2 separate regions of the Homo sapiens genome follow, and region 1 is linked to region 2. Evidence: fine-mapped expression QTL. Tissue or cell type: blood mononuclear cells. Region 2 holds a variant in brackets; the other region holds the start of a gene. All regions are shown on one strand. Distances are from middle to middle.

Region 1 (8,107 bases), 670 kb before region 2:
ACCCTCGCTGTGCTCGCGGCGGCAGCGGCGGTCCCACTTGTTGCGCAGTGCTGGAAACCGGCACGCGCCATTCGATGTTGATTCACAGAGGGCTACAGACCAGCCTACCATTGCTCCACGCCATCCACAAACCTCCTCAACACACCCCCTACACATACGTCCTGCCACCGCCGGCAAAACTACAGCATTTCCAGCCACTATGGTGTTTTACACCAAAACATCCCTCACTATCTCGGTATCAGACAGGCAGCAGAATTAAGATGCCCTGAGAAGTCAATCCAAGGGGAAGGCCGGGCTACCTCCGCCTGGAGAACTCTTCTACTTAAAATCAACCAGGCACCCTCCCCCCACCAAAAAAAAAAACCTTAGAACCACGTTGCCTATTATAACACCATCCTAGTTGGAAAGCAACATTTTTCTTCCCTACTTGATAAACTTCAAAGTCCTTTTTATCCGTTAGTTTTATCTCCCCTATTTTTTTTAAATCTCTGGGGGAAAAATGTTTCATAAGTTCACTTCCCAATATTTTTCAAAAATTGACTTTTGCCAATAGTTTCACCCACCGAGGGGTGGCGCTGCTGCACCGCCTCCTCTATATCTCTTAAGTTTTTCACAACAAAGTGGGTTGTGAGTGTCATTACCCTGTAGGGGATAGAGGGAAGGAAGGGTTTTGACATCTAGCCGTGGCTACCATTTACTCAACCAATAACTGGAACTCTTCAAGGGCTCAGCAAACGACAACTTAAGCATTTAGAGTCCCATCCCTATCCACCAAACCCAGAATAAGTTAGTCTTTTCAAGAAAGCATTGGTATAAAACCCTTCAAAACTGAAAAGAAGAAAGGGGCAATTGGAGAATTCCCACTTTTTCTGGCTGTCTCCTTCAAGTCGCCCAGTTTTTATGAACAGCATCTAGCCTTACTGTCACTATCAACAACCCTTAAAACTAGCCAATGCTTCGGCCTCTAGTATTGGAAAGTCTTCCAAATAGGATACTGGAAACTTCTATTTATAAGCTTGGGGTGGCGGGCGGGGCGGGGAGGTGGAGAGAGAGTTGCCATCTACAGGTTTCTATTTTGGCCTGAAGACTCAACTGCAGTCATTAGAGTAAGGGAATGCCCATCTCCTGGTACTTGTTCGCCATTTCCTCCTCCCCCAGAGACAAATATCTTTTCGTCTTTTTTAAAAAAGTATATATTTTAAAGCAAGAATGTGATTTCATCTCTCTTCTTTGAGCTCATGTTTGCTACCTCCAGGAATAGCGTGTGGACTAGGGCCAGATGAACTTCAACTTGGGCTGCAGATTTACGAGGTTCTGTTCTAGTGCCAAAGGCTCTTGGTAGTAAATAGTGAGCAAAATAGATACCTGTCTCCTGATGGATCTTGCCGCCCCCTCTTTTTTTTTTTAAGTTATTTATTAAAACCACACACACCTTGCAAAGAAAAAGGGAAACTGGCAGTCTCTGTAGAGGAAGCCGGTGGCATCGCTCAGAGCCACAAACTGTATTTCTAAACAGCCCTTTCCCTGGTTCCCTCTCTCCTGCCCCACTTTTTTTAAAATCCAGACTGTAAAAAACACATCTACTGACACTCACTTTACTTTAAAAAAAGAAGAGAAAAAGTAAAGCGTTACAAGACTTTCCTCCTGGAAACTATAAACTGAAAAAAAAATCCATAAAAGATTAAATCCTGGCGGGTTGTGGGGTGGCGGGGGCCGGCGGGGAGGGGGCGCGGAGTGGAGATTGGCTCTCTGAGGTGGTCAGGGGCCCTGTGACAGCTTGGGACTTTCAGCACCTGGTTTGGGGTCATTTATCTGCTCAACTGTCAGGACCCCCCACCCCCAAACCCCAGCCACCAACACAACCATCGTAGAAGGGAACACAACACAGAGGGTCTTTTTTCATTTTTTTAAAAAATCGGTTTGGTTGTGTTTTTGTTTTCCATGGGGGAGCTTTAAAACTCATTATTGCAACACTAGTTCCATTTTTCGCCAGGGTTCCAATAACACGGCATCATAAAGGCAACGCAACCCACAGTTCTCAAGACATTTACCACGGTCACTACATCCGGCAGCGGGGTGGCCCCTAGCTCCTGCTGCCCCCCCGCCCTTTCTCCCCGCCCGCCCCCGGAGCTCAGCCGATTTCTGAGGCTCCAACTCTACCCACTCCCTCCCCGGGCCGCCGCCGCCGCGCCTTCCCCCATTCTTACTCCCTCGAGGAGAGCCACAGGTTGCAAATCCAACCAACCTCGCAATCTATTTTTGCAAAATCACTCACAAAGATCTCCCTTTCGCGCCCGCGCCCGCTCCTCCCGCGCCGGGTCCCCTCAGCCACGGCCACAAAGTGCCCTTCTCTCCTCCTGAGTCTTGCACATAAGGAACGCGGGCTGGGGCTCTGTTCGTCTTTCTCCTCGCCCAAGGTAAGGACCTCGGGAATCTGAAGCCTGGCGTCCACTACGCTCAGGCCCGCAGTTCCCTTTTTACAGAGCTTGCACCATGGGAAAAAATAAAATAAAATTTAGGAAAGGGAGGCAACAGCCATTGGGAGCCAACACAGAGTCACGCAGCGCCCAAAATACAAACACCGCAGCGGCCAGAAATCCCGCCACCTTTCTCGTTCTCCCAGGCTGTCCTGTCGAGGTTCCCTGAGTCCCCCCGCACACTGAAAGGCATCGCAGGTGCAGTGCGCACCCCTTTCCCACCCACCCCAAGAAGCCCTGTCCCGCCATCAGTCTCTCTCCTCGGGATGAGCAGGGAGAGCGCGCGGAGGTTCCCGACTCCCTCGACTACAACCAAGAAAGAATAATTTTCAAAGTGTTCAACATCCCCGCCCCCAAGCTCCCCAAAACACAGGGGCAGGGAACACCAAAACACTCGGCTCTCATTAGGAAGATCACGGCTCTGAAAGGAAATAGTAGACACGATACTTCATCTCATCTGGATTTATGACCAAAAAAACAAAAACAAAAACCCAAAGAGTTCGCTTGCATTTTTTCCTTCCAAATCTCGGTTCGGCTCGAAGGCAGGGAATCTAAAAGACCGAGGCCGATGGAAGAGAGCCAGCGGGGCGAGCGAGCGGGCAGCCTCCCTTTTTGCCTCCCGGAGTTACCCAGAAGGACAGGGGAAGGGAAGGAAGAAGAGGCGAGGAAAAAGAGGAGGGAGGGAAGCGGAGGCCAGGAGCGACGGAGCAAGGAAAGCAGTTTGCAAGCGAGAAAAGAGGGAAAAAACACAGCCGCACGAATCCAGAGAGATCACAAGCCGTACGCAAGCAGCAGCAGAAAGAGCGAGAGCGCGAGCGCGCGTCCTCTCCGCGGTCTGGGGCCAGACAGCCCCCAGACTAGCCCGAATCACCCCCCAAGCACTGTCTCGTCCTCTCTGCTCCGGCCGCCCCCTAATTCCCCTCCTTCCTCTCCTCCACCTCCTTTCCAAAAACCAAAACAACACAAGGGAGGGTGGCAAAAGCCTCCCCAAACCGGCCGATTCACTCAAAGACAACAATAATAATAATAAATACATAACAATCTATATCCTATGGTGGGAGAGACGTGGGACTAATCTTCGGCATTTATTTTAACACCTGACAGCTAGAATAAATAAATATATACATTTATATCAATAGATACACATAGAAAACTTGGAGCCAAAGCATTTGGCAAGAGCGGAAAAAAAAAGAATTAAAAGGTAAAATAATGATCATGAGCAGCGGCGGCGGCAGCGGCACCAGCGGCAACAGCGGCGGCGGCGGCAGTAGCAGCAGCAGCGGCGGCAGCAACAGCAATAATCACCTGGTGTCCGGCCTTTCCTAGAAACTTCTTGCATCACCACTTCTAAGAACCCCAGTTCTAAGAATCAACAGAGCTCAATTCTCGGAATTTGAGCTTCGGACTTTACCACTGCTACGTGGCAGGGGAGGACTTGGTGTCAGCTCTCCGAGATTTTTACTGCCCCTGGCCAACCAAAAGCCCTCAAAGCCACAAGATTTTTTCACTGGCCGGCATATTTCGAGGTCCTCATAAGCAGAGCGTCTCGGATTTGGAGGTTCCGGTTCGAGGCTCGAGGGGCCTGAAGGTGGCTCTCCCTCCCCGGGCCCAAGACGATGGTATGGCCTGCTCCGCCACCATCACGTGGGCTCCTCCTCTGTGACGTCGGCGCCTTCGCTGTAGCAAAGCTCGGCCTCTGGAATTCTGAGAACTAATTTGCTATTCGGTGACATAAGAGGGGGAGTGCGCTTTGCTTTCCCGGGGTCTGGGGCTAATTCCTTCTTTCTTACCCATAAACTCAGCAGATCGAGCTAAATGCACAAAAGGGAGCGAGAGGTTTGAACCACTGGGAAAAGTATGTTATATATATAGTAGGGTTAGAGAGGCGAGTAAGAGAAAAATAAAATAAAATAAACATCACAGCTCTTTCCAACTAGAATATTAGGCACCACGAGAAAAATATTTGCCAAGCAGTTTTCGGTGGGTTCATTTGCTTTATTTTTATTTAGGACAGGGGTTTTTGCTGTTGTTCTGGGTTTTTTTCTTTCTGGTGTGGTGGCTTGGGATTTTTGGTTTCTGTATTTTGATGGTTTATGGATTTTTGCTTCTGATTTTTTGCCTTTTGCAAGTTTGTGGTGTTACGTAAATCACAGGATCGGCATCGGTTGGATTTTTTTGTACGTGCCTTTTCTTTCCCTATCTAATCCCTCAAGCGTTTTAAAGATGTATTATTTCAATACTAATACTATTGAAAGAAGCTTAAATTTTTGGCCATATGTAACAATCCCAGCCCCCACTTTTTTTTTTTTTTTTTCCTTTGGTGCAATTTTCTTTTTCCCCCTTGGACTTTTGCTGAAGTGTGTCTCTCCTGCACTTCAGAGAAATGTTCAAAGGATTTGTTTTGGTTTGGTTTGTTTCTTTCCAGGACAGCAAGTGGTGGGTTTAATCTGTTATTGTTGACTCTTGGGAAATTTCTTGTTGCAAGAAACGTGTGTGTGGGGGGGAGGGTGGGGGTGGCGGGGTGGTATGTGTGTGTTTTCTACAAAATTCTGTGAGCCAAATACCTGTTTGTGTTTTGTTTTCTCTTAAGGTCTTGAGATTTTTGTTTTCGAGGCTCGTTTCAAGGTCGTTGTAAAAAAATCTCTTCAGTCTGTGTTTAAGAGATCAGCCGGAGGGAATTCTAAAGGCCTGCCGTGCCAGTATCACAGATACTGCCTGTATTTAGAACAGACTGCCACAACTACAATGCACTACACGCAGCACAGTCTTCTTAGCTTTGAAGCTGAGTTGGGGGGTGGGGTGGGGGGGGGGTAGAGAAGAAGGAGAAATTCTTTCCTTCTCTTTTTCTCTATTACTTTCTTTTTAAAGGCAATTGCAGTGCAGAATCATTTCATTGTGGGTCCTAGTTTGTTTGTTCAGAGCTGCTAGTTTCCTTATTTAAATGTTGGTTCGGGTTTTTTCCCCTCCTACTCATCCCTGAATAAGGGAGACTCTTGTTTCTTTTATGTCTCTCTCTTAAAAGAAGGGTGTGAGGGGAAAATAATATTTCAGATTCCTCAAGAATTAGCCCAAAATGTTTGGACCAGAAGCAGCTTTCAAAGGTCAGGCTGTTCTGAGCCTTGGCTATGAGAGTCCTTCAAGCGACTTATTAAATTACAGATGAATTCTTAAAGCTTCCACAAAATCTCGTCACTTGTTAATTTCTAATAAAGATATGTCTAAAATAATCTACCTATCTCAACCCAAAATTTGGGTTTATAATGGAGGAGTGATCAGAGCTGTGAAAGATTGCTGTTTGCTGGGATATTTGGAAAATCTCTTTCATTGACAGTCCCGTAAGAAGTTCCATCTATCACCGAAAATGTTGTTGGCAATGCACCCCCCTACCCCACAACACACACACATTTTTAAAGGCTGTATTTTAGGTTTTAAAACCCAGAAAGGTGCAAAGAGGTTGATTATTTTCCACAAGGGCTGGAGCTTAGGAAATATGCGTTAAAGTGTCTGTCCCTGTGAAATCTGAATATTTTAATACTTATTGACAGATGGATTACTGCAGCCTCTGCAGAAAAGCCTGTCTTGTGAACGGTTTTTGAAAAATATACATAGGCCTAATCCTGTCACTGTTGTTGAAATGTACGTTTTACCCCCAAAGACACATGATATTGTCAAGTTCAGATTTATTCTGCCAGAAGGCAGACTATCTGCTTTTTCATTTGAGTCCCCTTCCTTCTCATTTTCAAAGAAATTAAAATGAATCCCGCTGGATGCAAAATGACACCCCGATTTTGTGGAAGGGATTTTCTTTGTGTGTTTATATGTGTAATTTTTTCTTTTATGAGCAATTAGCACTTTAGGATTTCTCAGACGTATCTATATGGTTTGGAATGTGAATTGTATGGCTCTGCCTTACTATTGGGCCCTCAAAAGATTATTTTTATGATTTTTGGTCACTTTTTTCTTTGTCAAAACTGCCATTCAGCCTCATCCACCGCCCCCCTCAACCTGAAACACAGCTTGTCCCTCCTGTGTTCCCTTTGCCACTCCACTCTTAGCCCCATGGGGGCGCTGCAGAGCAAAGGGAAATCTGCTCTCTAAGGCAGTAGTAGAACCAGCCAGAGTGGGGGCTGGGAAGGAATTCACCCTTCTCATACCTCAGCCCTCTTTAATTCTCTGCAGTGAGCCCCTAGAGGGAGAACCCACCAGGGCTGGTTCATATATAATTAACCTCATCACCAGGGACCTCAAATCTTCCCAGCATATTATTTCTGGGACCAAGTGCCAGAGTGCCACATTTTCCTACTGCTTTTTGCCAAATCAATGTGTTTACACTGAAAGAAATTGACCAGAACAGAAGACCAGTTAGAAAGAAAGAGAAAATCATTATTGAAAATTTTCTAAAGATAGGCACTTACTTTTCGGTGAGTCTCTTTTACTTTGAACTGAATGAATGGTGAGGAAAATTGTGCACCCGCCTCTCAATCTCTTTTCAATTCCTAGGAAAGTAACTTTGTCAAATATTATACCAGTTGAATTTCTTCCAGAATGTCATTTCTTCTTTCATTCTTGACCTCTCCTCAGTATCCAGTTGGCATCACTATGTGGGCCTCCCTCACTCCCGCAGTGCCGTGTTACAGGATTAAAGAAAGGGCTGACTTGAACGTATTCTGATTCTTTTAAATCATCCTTAAGAAGCTCTAAAGAGTGATTCCATGTCTGGGGTCGTATGAATAATTCCTGCAGACTTCGGGGCACTACATTTCAACTAGTCCCATGATTTAATGGTTACTGGCTGCTAATACTCAGTAGAGGACCAGGCCAACCTCTTTGCCTCATGGACTGGGCATAAGAATAGGTCCCTGATCATTGCTGCTGGGTAAATATAAGCTTTATTACAAAATAAAATAGCCTGGTCCTAATATTACATCTATTTGAGGAAAAGAACAGACTTCACATCCAATTCCCCCTTGCAAAACCTTCCCCACAATTCAGTCATAGCTGAAAAAGAACCTATCCTTGGAATAAACACGGTTCTGTCCTCTTTCTAAGGGGGCTCACAAGAGGAAGTTGGTTTCACCTGTCAGGAACCTCTGGCACCTTGGTAGGTCTTTAAGATACCACATCATAGGACTAAAGATTTTAAAACTGGGAAGACTTTTTCAAATCAATCACCTTCTCTAGGCTTTCTTCTTTCAGGATTATAGGCTGGGTCTTCACTAGGAGCATGTGTGACCCCAGGAACACAACTGAAAATGGGTCTGCATGATTTGCTGGCCCTCTGTCATTTTAGAGGATCAGTGTAATCTGACAACTTGAGTCTGTAGGTGTATATCTTGTGTCCTTGTAGAACTGAGGGAAGCAAGGCTGCCATGGTCTCTTTGTAAACTGCAAAACTCAGAGCGAACTCCAAGTCATGATGAGTTTTGATGGTCATTTGGGTTTATTTATGCCTCTCAGCTACATTGAAGTACTTGGCACTGCTTTTGATAGATTTGGGAGACACTATCTATCAGACTTGTTAAATTTTACCTGTTCGTTTTATTTCAAATCCTTCATTTAGAACTGTTGTAAACAAGCTTTTTGTAGTATCCTTGGAGAAAGAAAGGCGTTTTTAACATAGCAAGATGAGC
Region 2 (8,107 bases):
GAGAATTAGCCATTAGTGATGTGAAGCCATGTATCCTGGGTAGGCAGGACACATTTGTTTTCTTAGCAGATAACTAACATGTGAGGGAAATGGATGTCCACTTATGGCATTATATTTAAAGGAATAATTTAGACTGGATTTTCCCCATTATTTTTGCTGCGAACGTATGGTCCTCATGGTGTGCTTTTCTGTCTCTGGAGTCTTATTGTCCTTTTCCCCATGCAAAGAGAATCTTGCTCTGACTTTGGAGATACAAATGGGAAACATCTTTTTTGGAGGTTACAAATGGGAAACATCTTTTTGTAATCCTGACAGTCCTGTTAATTGCAATTAGAGACTGCAGTTGTAACATCTTGGACGTTTGGTATAAGTATGCGTGTTATGCCATGAGGATAGCCACAAATTCACGGAAACATCAGGAACTGTAATGAAGCTCGGGTTTGCCTGTCATGCCCCTTTTCTGGATGAGCGTAAGCATCTCGAGCCTCATCCATCACTGCACAGTGCAGTGCATGAGTTTTAATTTTCAGGTCCTCAGGGGGACAAAAGAACAAGCTGTGTATTCATTAAAGGATCAAATATTAATTGTATTAATTTGATCTTTACACTGCATCTTTCAGCAGAGAAATTAACTTGTAATTCTTGGAGTGACATCAGATCTTACCAAATATTCTTAGGCCTTATTGATGCTCAAAAGTGCCAAGATGCAGCCCTGGCTTGATGGTCAGTGCAGTTACATTCAAGCTTCAGTTTCATCACTTGGCCTTGGGCATGATGCTTTTCTAATCCATATCCTCTTTAATTCATAAAATATTAGCTGGTAATACCAACTGCCTCACAAGATTGTTTTGAAAGCCAAATATGATGATAAATGTGAAAATGTTTTTAAACCATAAAATACCTTATAACTCTAAGGAGTTACTATTATATACTTATTCAGCAGTCATTTACTTAAAACAGATTTTGTGCCAGATACTCTTCTAGGGGCTGAAGTAATGGCACTGAGTGAAACAGAGACTAGTTCCTGCCCTCTTGGGATGTATTTTCTTGCTATAATAAAAATAACATTATTAATAATAATAGTGATAACATTTGTGAAATAAAATTTATTTAATAAATGCATTTTATAACTTTACATATAATTACCAATAACTATTCAAAATTATAAAAAATACTTTAATATAGGTTAAGTAACTCTAATCCAAAAATCTGAAATCTTAAATGTGAAAAAATCTGAAACTTTCTGAGTGCTAACACAATGCTCAAAGGAAATGCTCACAGGAACATTTTGGATTTCAGTATTGTGGATTAGGGTTGCTTAGCTGGTATGTGTAAATATTCCAAAAATCCAAAAAATCTGAAATTTGAAACACTTCATGTCCCAGATGTTTTGTATATGCGATACTTAGTCTGTAGTAATGAATATGTGATAATATAAGTATAATAATAATTTAGCATGTTATCCATAAGTACTCATGTCATTAGCTTCTAACAACAGTGATAGAGATCACAATGCCTCAACACTATATAAACTGTAAAATTCTAGAACCAGGGTGAATCTTAAAAGTTATCTAATACAACCCCTTTCTTTCCTAGATGAGAATAGTTGAGAATGTATTCACTAATACATTTCAGCGAAGTACAGGTTCTTTGCCCAGGAGTGCTGTAAATAACCAATGAAAATTCTTGAATGCAGGCAACAATTTAATCTTCATTTCAGAGACTCAGAGAGGCAGGTGGCTTGTTCAGTATTGCAGATTAGTAAGTGGGGAAGCCAAGCCATGATCCTGGGGATTCCTTCTCTGGTTGCCATAGACACGTTTTGGGGGACTTGTTTAGAAGTTACAGTGATTGAACTAATATACCCGAACAAAGTGGATTGGATGTTTTAGAACAAGGAGAAGTCCCTGTATTGTTGACAGAAATCTCTTTTATTTTGTAACTTGTCAGCTTAATTAACTACTGAAATGAGTTCCTTAATAAGGTGATGGGTGCCTCCTAATTCTTGTATGGTTCAAAAACAATAATTAATGCTGATTTGTGTGGTGAGATACATATTAATCATCTTTATTTTTGAATTATACAAATATACAATACTATTGTCCCTCCGTATTTTACATCTGAAGAGAATTTAATTGCTTTTTTGATAATAAAAATAAACAGAGAGCCACAAAGAGATATCACCACACATGTATTAGAAAAGCTAAAATAAAAATTTGTACCAGATGCTGCTAAGGATGTGGAGAAATGATCTCTCACAATGCTGGTAGGCATGTGCAAAATTTTGTAGCCACGATGGAAAACTCTTTGGCGGTATTTTACAAAAGTAAACATGTACTAACCATATGACTCAGCAAATATACCCTTTGGCATTTAATCCAGAGAATCAAAATGTTATGTTCACGAAAAAACCTGTACATGGATGTTCATAGCAACTTTTTTTTTTTTATCATAATGACAAAACACTGGAAACAACCCAAATATCCTTTGATGGGCAGATGTTTCAGTGAAGTCTGGTACAGCCATACAATGGAATAATACCATTCAGCAGTAAAAAAGAATGAAGTATTGTTGGTATATGCAATAACCTGGACATGCTTAATGAAAAAACTGTCTCGAAAGGTTACATGTATTATATGATTTCATTTTAAGACAAAGCTCTAGAGATAAAGGACATATTCATGATTGCTAGGGGACAGAAATGGGTGGGTCGGGGGGGGGCAAGTACTGGTCATTCCTACAAAGAGGACGCAGCAAGAGTCTTTGTATGGGTGGAACAGATCTGTACCTCAATTGGAGTGATGATTACATGAATCTATACATGGGATAAAGTTACATAGAACTGTATGCACACACAAATCAATGCAGGTTATAAAATGGTAAAAACTGAGTAACTCCTAGTTAACAATAAGGTAACAATGTCAGTTTGCTGGGTTTTCGAATGTATTACAGCTTTATGAGCATTACCATTTAGGGAACCTGGGTAAAATGTACATGGAAACTCTGTACTATTTTTGCAACTTTCTATGAGTCCATATTTAAAAAAAAATTAATAATAGTAAAATAAAGGAATGCATATAGATATCTTAATGTATTCTTCTCTTACTCAAAGTGCTATCTTACATGCCATCTGAATTGCTTGCATGATACTTTGAAAGATCACTGCTATATGTATCCCTGCCAAAATGTATGGCTTAAACCTGTGGTTTTCAAAGCTGGCCAGTCATCAGAAAGACTTGGAGAACATTTTTCAAAAGAAAAAAATTAAAGCAAGTCCTAGGTCCCATCACAATTTTACAGAATCAAAATATCTGGCCATGGGGCCCAGGAATCTGCATTAAAACAAAGCAAAATAAAAAATAAAACAGAACTTCCCGGGAATTGTGATTGATGCTCAACCAACGTTTGGGAACCACTCATTTATTTCATTAACTTCAGGGACCAGTGCCTTAATCTCCTTTGAACCTTCTCCAAGTCCTGAGAGTGTACTCTTCCTCCCGTAGTTAATGATGGTAGCTTTTGAAGTCTTGAGAGTCTTTATCTTGTGAACATTGTACAGATTCAGAGACCTAGAGCATCTTTCATGTTGCTATTCTTTTCCCTCAGTGCTTTCATTATAGACACCAATCGTTTGCATATGTTGTCCTGGGTCATTTTATTTGGGATCCAAAACCAGAAAATTTCAAACAACAACAAAAAAATGGATTCTTCGAGAATGCCCTAGCCATGGACAAGCTTCTGCATTACAGAGCTCTTGCTATTGTGTTGCTTTGGGTAGCAATGCCTGAAATCTCAGCCAATTTTGGGTCACAGTAGGCCTATGTAAATTATCTAAAAATGGATTCATTATGGACATTATAAAAATAAATCTGACACCTGAGCCTTTGGGCAAATATACCATATAAAGAAATCATACCCTAGAATAACGATTAACCTAAAGAACTTAAAAAAAATCAGTATGATATTTTTATCATCCTTTCTTAAAATTACTGCATTCAGAGAGACCTGATGGCTGAGGACAGCACCTGGGGCAGAGGAGTATAGGTCATTGGGATGTGGCATCCTGAGTCTTCTAGCAGTTTGCTCTTCCAGCACTCTCCCTTATTATATGTTCTTTACATTGTTCTGTATGTCGCTGTCTTCAAACAGAATAGATAAGTCTACTAGTCAAGATAGACATATAACAGGCACCACATGTGCATAAAAATTGCATTATGTAAATTTAGTGCCGTAATATAATATGAAGGATGTCCTCTAGGAGGAACTGGGGAAAGCATCACAGACGAGGACACATCTGATCTGAGTGTTGGAGAATGAGTTAGTTGTTTACCAAGCAGAAAAGGGTGGTGGACAGCATGGCATGCCAAGTAAAGGGAACAGCATGTGCAAAAGCAGAGAATGGCCCCCATCCTGACCCTTGTAATTTTGGCAGCTCTTTGCTGATGTCCTCAGGCAATGCATCTGGGCTCCTGGGAATAGCTTTGCAATGTGAACAGAGTGACTTCACTATGGGTAGACCTAAATGTTCTAGCGTGCTCTGAAACTTACCTCTAGAAATAGCTCCAGGAAGTTAGGTAGCTTCAGAGAGGAAGGACCAAGAAATATGATCTTATACCACAGGCAAGAAGTACTTTCCTGGAGGTACTGGCCAGAAGTACTATTGCTATCTCTCTGCACTTGTCTGTTATATTTTAGAATGAAATGTGCCTGTGCATACAAATGCTAAGGCAAGAAAGAAAAAGCAAAAGGCAATTCTCTTTAAATCTCCTGAAATAATTTCAGGCAGCTTTTTTTACCTAGTCAAACACACACGCTTAAGAATGGAGTTGTAAGCTAACTTAATCATTTTTTGTTTTGTTTTGCTCTCTTACTTGTTCACACGTTGGGGTAATCCTGAGAAAACAGGAAGCAATGAAAGAAGGATTTTATTG[T/A]GAAATGTTCATTACAACTTGTAATTTTAAAATGTGTTTGTATGAGTGTGCACAAATGTGAATAAATTTTAGAGCACTTTCTCACATAATATCTAGTTTAATCACCAGAATATCCTGCAACGTTATTATAGTTCCTACATTATTATGGTTCCTAAAGACAAATGAAAAATCTGTGATTCAGAGACCCAAGGTTAGGCTAATAAATGTAGAAGTCACATTTGACCAAATTTTAGTATCTTCCCTTAAGTATTGGTAATGTACGATAAACACTATTTGGTAATAATGAATTATTACAATTACTAAAACAACTTATCTGGCAGAACAGTATCTTAACTATTTGAAAAATATTGTAGTGGATTTATTAGCTTCCATTTCATCTGAAGTCCACTTTGCTTTACTGCTTACTTTATCTTTCTAGCTACTCTGTAAAAAAGTTATTATCACCCTCAATCTGCCAAGTATAATGTATGTAAAGTGAAATAACTAGCATATTGCAAAGCTGGGAATTGAACCCTTGTCTCCTAAATCCAAGTCTGTAGCTGTTCCTCAGCAGTACACTGTATCTCATGTTAATGCCATTATTACTTGTATTAAATGAAATAATTTTTCCATCATTATTTTCCCGAATTATTACTATCCAGAGCGATTTGAAGGTTAAGGTCATCCAAATAATGTGTGAAAATTGCTTAAAATCAATCTCCTGTGCATGGATGTCTATGATGTATACAAATATAAAACAGCCAAAGTAGTCTCAAGAAGTTATTACCAAGTTTCTCAAATAGTGTCTCAAGGCGACATTATTTGACAAGACCTTTGGAATAACCATTTGGAATTTTCCTTAGTTCAGTTGAATTGTGTCATCTTGCTTAAACTTTTCAGATATCAGGGGTAGTTTTATTGACATTACAATGGAATTAAAATGACATTTTATTTTATTTTTTACCGTTCTATAGAAATGGCATTTTAATTCGTCATTATTTTTATTATTGATCTGTTAATGTTGTAATGACTTGGGTTTTAGTAAGGGCATCCTCTGTAAAAATTACCTCCTGGGAAAGAAATCTCCAAGTTCTATGAGGTCTCCCAGAAATATCACCACTTGAGGTGAGAGTAAAGTGTCATGAATGCCACCCAATGTGATTCCTGGTAGATAAGATTTCACTGTTTTATATCTTGACATCTGCATTAAATTCCGTTCTTTTACTGGGTCCTATTCACTTCCATCTTGTGCCATTGTTACTTAACCAGGCTCTGTAGTGGACAGGAAAAAGTAAAAACACGTCTTAGCCCTTAAACAGTTTATATTTTCATTAGAAATTCAACATATGAAAATGCCCAGTTAACTAACAATATAAAGCTTTACTGTACAGCTTCTATTTGTGAAGTGACTCCATGGCTAACTCTATCAGAAGAAAGAGTTTGCTTGGAGCCAAGGTAGTATTGGAAGGTTACAGAGAAGAAAGACTCAGGGAGGCAGTGGTTAAGCTTGTAGACTCTGGCATCAGATAGATCTGGGTTTCGAGTTTTGATTTTACCTCTTAATTCTCTGGAAACTTGGACTCACCAGGATAAGTGGCAACCTAAGTTCTTTCAGTTTTAAAATAGAGATAGTTATGCACTAGGCGTGGTGGCTCACGCCTGTAATCCCAGCACTTTGGGAGGCCAAGGGTGGATCACCTGAGATCAGGAGTTCAAGACCAGTCTGGCCAACATGGCAAAACCCCGACTTTACTAAAAATACAAAAATTAGCCGGGCGTGGTGGCACACACCTGTAATCCCAGCTACTTGGGAGACTGAGGCAGGCGAATCACTTGAACACAGAAGGTGGAGGTTGCTGTAAGCCACTGCATTCCATTCCAGCCTAGGCGTCAGAGTAAGACTCCATCTCAAATAAATGAATAAATAAAAATAATAAATAAATATATGAATAAATGAAATAGAGATATTTGTATCTTAAAGAGTTGTTTTCAAAGTTAAGTCATGACAAAATAATGACAAAATCAGTGGAAGCTGCAATCATTGTTCTTGCTATTATTATTGAAATGAAAATATGAACATTAGCTCTGAGGGTTCTATCCATAGTTTTTTTTAAAAAATTCTGATTATAAAATTTTAATTATAAAATCCCATATAGCTCATGCTGACCATTTAAAAAATAATCTTAGTTGTATCCTTGTTTCTTTTTGTATTTGCTAATAGAGATTTTAGAATTGGCTTGGTGTATGTTTGTCCTTGCTAGAATTATGATTCCTTTTTTGAATTTGCATTACACCTTTGTTAGAAGTAGAATTACTTTACTTGAACTTTGTCAATGTGGCAAAAAATGATTCATGTTTATATTATCTCTTTGAAAAGTAGTGTTTTTACTATTGAACTATAAGTACAGTTAAAATGTAAATGAACATTTCAGAAAGAAACTATTGATTTTTATTAATTAAAGAAATTAATTTTCCAAAATGTCAGTTGCTACAGAGAGATTTTAGGGATTATTAACTACACAATCTCAGAAAAATTAATTTAATTAGGGATTTTATTTTGGGTTCCATTCGTTTTTGAGATTCATATTTTGGATTAAGCCAGTCTCCTGAAATTGTATTTAAACTTAGTCTGCGTGTATGTCTTTTTTAGGGAAAGCATTCACAACACCATCAGACCCTCGAAGAGATTCTTAACTTACCCATTAAGAAAAGTAACATCTCTGTCTAGGGGTCACCAGTCTCTCAAGCCAGTTATATTGTTGCTGCTTGAATAAACAAAACAGGTTTTTATTTCTGCTCTTACCAACATTACTAGGCTGTGTTTGTAGCAAAAACTGAGTATGTGGTGGTGGTAGTAACTACAGTAGAAAGTGTAACGTGTACACAATTATATCATGATACATGGTTTTTAAACACATTTTATATATGTATATATTTAATTTATTCACACAACAAATATTTGCACATGTTGCCTGAGCTGTGCATGTGTAAGGCAGGGCATAGAAATGAATAGGGCATGGGTTCTTTCTGCTGAATTAGATGGTACCCCCTCACCCCCCATTTTACTGTTGAAGAGAGGGAAGCTTGGTGGTGAGGTGGCTTGCCCCAGACCATACAGGTAAAAAGTAGTCCAGAGTAGATTCAGGCATAACTTGTTTGAACCAAATTGTGTTCTTTAGACTGCAACATGCTTTCTG

Evidence for each region. PIP is the estimated chance that this variant, and not a neighbour inherited with it, causes the effect.
Region 1: BCL6 starts here. The variant in region 2 is fine-mapped to the expression of BCL6 in blood mononuclear cells (TOPMed, PIP above 0.99). The same link has a PIP of 0.9 or more in monocytes.

The regions. Positions count from the first base shown.
Region 1 is chr3:187,741,628-187,749,734 of GRCh38, forward strand. It overlaps BCL6 (BCL6 transcription repressor), which reads right to left and starts at 3,841. Exons shown (of 10, transcript NM_001706.5): 1 at 3,783-3,841. It overlaps BCL6-AS1 (BCL6 antisense RNA 1), which reads left to right and starts at 2,042. Exons shown (of 2, transcript NR_173091.1): 1 at 2,042-2,417; 2 at 3,617-4,399. RefSeq lists enhancers at 1-63, 64-563, 2,954-3,479.
Region 2 is chr3:188,413,064-188,421,170 of GRCh38, forward strand. All of the region lies in intron 4 of LPP (LIM domain containing preferred translocation partner in lipoma), which reads left to right. Among named protein-coding and RNA genes, the nearest start is that of LPP-AS1, 150 kb to the right of the region's middle. The variant T/A (reference allele first, on the strand shown) is at 4,932.